Regions from separate parts of the Homo sapiens genome. Here region 2 is linked to region 1. A link means that fine-mapping ties the variant in region 1 to the expression of a gene that starts in the linked region. Tissue or cell type: whole blood. Region 1 holds a variant in brackets; the other region holds the start of a gene. All regions are shown on one strand. Distances are from middle to middle.

What was found. PIP is the estimated chance that this variant, and not a neighbour inherited with it, causes the effect.
Region 2: HPS5 starts here. The variant in region 1 is fine-mapped to the expression of HPS5 in whole blood (TOPMed, PIP 0.92).

The regions. Positions count from the first base shown.
Region 1 is chr11:18,282,717-18,285,216 of GRCh38, reverse strand. It overlaps HPS5 (HPS5 biogenesis of lysosomal organelles complex 2 subunit 2), which reads left to right. Exons shown (of 23, transcript NM_181507.2): 21 at 1,316-1,422. Among named protein-coding and RNA genes, the nearest start is that of SAA1, 18 kb to the right of the region's middle. RefSeq lists an enhancer at 2,465-2,500. The variant G/A (reference allele first, on the strand shown) is at 1,409.
Region 2 is chr11:18,320,749-18,323,497 of GRCh38, reverse strand. It overlaps HPS5 (HPS5 biogenesis of lysosomal organelles complex 2 subunit 2), which reads left to right and starts at 1,358. Exons shown (of 23, transcript NM_181507.2): 1 at 1,358-1,552. GTF2H1 (general transcription factor IIH subunit 1) reads right to left here and starts at 931. Exons shown (of 15, transcript NM_005316.4): 1 at 758-931. RefSeq lists enhancers at 954-1,373, 1,384-1,683, 574-1,773, 911-1,860.

The sequences.
Region 1 (2,500 bases):
TGTTTTAAGTGATAGTAAATTAAACATCTTTTTTCCATTTAAATTTCTTGCTTTTTTCTTTTTTTTTTTTTTTTAAATAGCCTTAGCTAATTCCCCTCCACTCCCTCTGCTTAGTTGCCAGCCCCAGTTCTCAGGCATGTAGATAGTATTTAATTAAGCACCAGATTATGTGATACCAATTATAATTGATAGACTTTTATAATTAATACAGTAAGAGAGAGATCAAAATGGGCTCAATAGCATCGCTGGTGAAGGACTCAAGGAGGAGGTGAGATTTTGGAGGTAAAACCTAAAACCTGGGTAGGATTTGTATTTATAAAGGAGCCAGGAGAGGGTGAGTTAGGTGAGAGAAACAGAGCAAGGGCGTGGAAAACTGGCATTGCTTATTATCCATGTCACACTTCAGTCAGTTATTTATTGCCTGGTGATACTGGCTTATGGCTCCAACTGGATTATAATCTTTTGGAGATAGCAACTTGTGTCTTTCTTTTCCCTCATAATGTCTATATCTAATTTGTATAGTGGTAGGCACTTGATACATATTTGTTCATTGTAATGAGGGCTGAGTCTGGCCAGGTGGTGGGTGACAAGATCATGCAGGACCTTGAAAGCTGGTAGAATAATTTAGTTATCAGTAGAGACCCTTTTAGACTGAACTACTTGGTGCAAAAATTGTGTAATGAAAGTGGAGCTTTCTAGAGATCATTTCTGATGTCATATATGAGAAGGCTGGAGACAGAAGGCCAGCTAGGAAGCTGTTGGAGTAATTCAGATATGAGTGGATTGGTGATTAGTAGGGCAGCAAAAGGAGCACATCCAGTGGGCATTTCAAAGGAAAATGCAGTGGGACATGCTGATACTGGATATAGCAAATGAAGGAGGGGGAAGAGTCAAGGAAGACTTCCAAGGTTTACATATTTGGAGAAGAAATATGCTAGGTTTGTGTTGAATTTTAAAGTTTATAAATTGAATAAAGCTTAAATGCCTTATAATTGGAGCTTGGCCTCAAATGTCAGCATTTGTTGCTAGGTTTTTTGTTTTTTTTTTTTCCCTAGATCAGGGTCATCTAATAGAACTTTCTGTGATAGTGGAGATATTCTACTGAACTGTCCAATGGTGGCCACTAGCCACATGTAGCCATTGACTACTTGAAATGTGAATATATTAACTGAAAAACTGACTTTCAGATGTTATTTACTTTTAATTAATTTAAATTGAAATAGCCACATGTGACTGTGTCTACTGTTTTGGGCAGCACAGCTCCAGATAAATTCATGGCCTTTTATTCCTTTCTTCAACTTCGGTCTCTTTAAAGTTTCTGGCCTGGATATCTAATTCTCTGTTTGGAGCTGGAGAGAAGAAGAGAGGCCTTCACCAATATTGTGTATCTGAATGATATGAGCCTGAT[G/A]GAAGGGGACAATGGTATGTCAATCCTAACTGGTTACTCTTGGTTGTCAATTTTTAGAAGTTACTCCAGACCTCTCAACAAAAAAATTTGGTGAACCTTTCAATGATCATATATTTAATATGTGATTCCACTTAGTTGTCACATTTGTGGAGTTTTTGTTTTTGTTTTTGTTTTTTACCTATAGCCCTTGATATGTTATGAAATCACAATTAAGAATAAACTATAGGCAACTTTTCTATTTCATGAGTGCCTACTATGTGTTAGGCACTATACTGTGTGCTTTCCATATGTTGTTTTAAATGAGATAACAAACTCTGGGGATAGTTACTATTATTTCCACTTTCCAGATAACTGAGGTACAGAAGGGACAGTTAATTGGCCCAAAGTCACACAGCTACTAATTGTAAATGCTGGAGCTGGGGTTCAGACCAAGGACTTCCTCCAAAATTTGTGCTTAGGCTCTTTTTTTTTTTTTTTTTTAATTTCCCATTAATTAAAGATGATTCTGGCCAGGCGCGGTGGCTCACGCTTGTAATTCCAGCACTTTCAGAGGCCGAGGTGGGCAGATCACCTGAGGTCGGGAGTTTGAGACCAGCCTGGCCAACATGGTGAAACCCCATCTCTACTAAAAATACAAAAATTAACTGGGCATGGTGGCTTATGCTTGTAATCCCAGCTACTTGAGAGGCTGAGGCAGGAGAATTGCTTGAACCTGGGAGGTGGAGGTTGCAGTGAGCTGAGATCGCACCACTGCACTCCAGCTTGGGCAACAGAGCAAGACTTGGTCTCAAAACAAAAAGGAAAAGAAAAATTCCTTGAATTCGTCAAGTTCTTTCCTGTGTCACATTGTCTTCCATGTTTCCTTTATCAGAAATGCAGGCCCCTTATTTCTGATGGCTCCTACTCCAAGTTTTCACATTATGTGGGCCCCATGCATATGTCCTCTAAGCTTGTCTCATCTTTTAGCTTTCTGCTTCAATGTCACTTCCTCATAGAGCCCTTCTCAGATCTTCCAGGCAGAATCAGCCATTCTCTCTGATGCTTCCTTGTTCTTTTTTTTCATAGTGCTTAGCATACTTTATAAGTATATAC
Region 2 (2,749 bases), 38 kb before region 1:
CCCCATTTTACTGATGCTAAAATTGGAGTTTAGGAGTCATTTGGGGCCAGGCACTGTAGCATAATTCTGGCGCTTTGGGAGGTCTAGGCAGGAGAATCGCTTGAGCCCAGGAATTCGAGGTTACAGTGAGCTATTATCACGCCACTGCATTCCAGCCAGGACGACAGAACAAGACTCTGTCTCTTAAAAAAAAATAAGAAAAGTCACCTCCTTATTTAATTTGGCCTTTGAGAACACTGGGGGATTTACAAAATAATTACATATATCCAGGTACTCATGGTCTATTTTTCATCATTACACGACAATCAAATGACCAAAACTAGGAGTGTGTGGACTGGCACGTGTTAAGGTTTTTAAGAGAGGTAAGATTGACAGGTGGAAGCAAAAGGTGTGCAGACAACAAGGTGACAGCTTTTCTCTTACAGAATCCCAGACTCAACAGCACATTTCCTGACGGGAAGGGCTTCTCTGTCTGGGAGAGGCCTCCACTTCATTCTCATAAGCCAAATCTGATCCTGGCTTTGGGTAAACCTGCTCTCAATTTAAGAGCAGGTTTCCTTTAGACAAGTAGATTAGGGGTCGCCTCTTCCTCGCCTCGGGATAAGGGCAAACAAGACGCCAGGCTTGGGCGTTGGGAGGACGGCGACAGCGACGCTGGGAACAGGGGTAGAATCCACGCCGTCCAGCGGCCCCCAGGCCTGTCAGCTCCTCACCCGCCCACCCACCCGCCCGCCTGCATTCTTCGGTCTAAACTTACCAGGTGGAAGCTACAACTCTAGACAGGAAGTAACTAACTGGGTTGGATCCGGTCGAGTTCCGCTGCGCTTCTTAGAGCCGCTGCTGGGAAGAGGCCGAAACCCAGTGGCCGCAGCAGTAGCCACCGCCTCTGTTACTAGGGGGTCTCGCCTCCATCGCTGGCTGCGAGGAGTCTGAGGGCACGTGACCGGAAGTAGCAAGGCGGGCCCTGGGCACGTGACTCAAGAGCGCGGCCGCCATGACACCTTCCGCTAGTTCCCTCCCTCCCCCACGGGTTCCCGCCTGTTTCGTTTCCTCTCTCCGGTCTCGAGCGGCGAAGGGTCCTGGGATCCTGGCTGGCCCAACCATTTGGCCTAGAGCTCCTCCGGTTCCAGTCGGCGCCGTGTCTCCAGCCCGCAACGGCCCTGCGGTCGCAGGCCGTAGAGAGCGTAATCGCGACCGCGGCCTGAGGGGGAGGGACCACGCGGAAGGAGGGGCGTGACTCGTCACGTGATGAGGAAGTGCCGTTAGTAGCGTTGTTTCCAGTCTGCGGCTCTCCTGGATGACGTCAGCAAGGAAGGGGAGGAACGCGAGGGGAGACTGAAGTTCACGTTCCGCTCTTAGTGCGCGGTGAGTTCCCCGGCGCTAAGCCGGGAGACAAGATCCGATCTACTGAGAGCTGCGAGGTACTGCCCTGGATGTGGTGGAGCTGGGCTGGGACCTCCGGGCTGCTGGTCTGTGAGCCTGGCTTTGAAAATTGGTTACTGGGTCTCCTCTCAAGAAATCTCAAGATATTAAAGTTACTGCTGTTAAAAAGGTAGTAGTTCCACTAGGCAAGGAGCTTTTTGTGGGTAGGGATTGTGTTTTGTTCATCCCTGTGTCTCTAGCGGTGTGTTCAGGTCCTGGAACATAGTAGGCACTCAGAATGTTGAATGAATGAATGTATAAATGAGTCAGTCGCCATTTGTCTGAGGCAGAGAGTTGTTTTCTGATCATTTCTTCTTGGATAGAAAGATCCCATTGTGAAAATGAGGCAGTCTGCAACTTCCCCTTCTCATTTCTTCAATTTTTGCTATCTTTCTTACTTCTTTCTCCTCTTCCTCCACGCACCTACTGGGGCAAAAGAGAAACATGTTTGCATTTGATGTGTGAGCAACAAACACTGAACTATTTTACGATAATGGAAAGATGAGATTTGGATTCAGGAGACGCGTATTCTAATCTCAGCTCTACCATTTATGAACTCTGTGATCCTTGGGCAAGCCAGTCTCCCAAAAGTTGTTTCATTTACTTTGGTTAAGCATTTGTCGCCAACTTCTATGTTCTTAGTTTTTGGTAGAGTGCCTTCACAGAAGTAACATTTAAACTCAGCTTTGCAGAAAGGTAGGGTTTTGGTAAATGGGGGAAGATTCCATAAACATCATATATTAAACCATGGAGGCACAGCAAGTTTATGGAATGAAAAAGAAAAAAAGAGTCGAGTCCAATGTAGTTGGAGAATAGAGAGGTTAAGATGGGAAATAAGGCTGGAAAAAGAAGCAGGGAGGAGATAACAGATTTTCAAGAAATAGAGCTGTTGAAGGCTTGTACAATATTATGTATATATTTTTTAAATTTTATTGTGGAAAATTTCAAACGCAGACAAAAGTAGGATAATAAATTGAACCCTCATGTACACTTAACGCAACTTGAACAATTATCAGCATTCTGCTGTTCCTCTTTATACTGTTTGTACATTTCTAGGTACTTTTTATATCCATTGTTGCATTTGATTAATAGCAGCTTTCAATTTGAGCTCAGTTCTACTGTATGTAGCTACTGGCTAAGAAGATTTTATTTATGTAAACAATTTCTTTGGGTTTTAGTTGACCACTTGCTCTGTTGAATCAATGTGTAACATGGCCACTTAAACACAACTAATACTGTTTTTAGGTTGTAATATAGAAACTTAGTGTCTAGATCCAGGAAGTTAGTGTTTCTACTCTATTCTGGGCTCATCTAACTACTTAAGGAG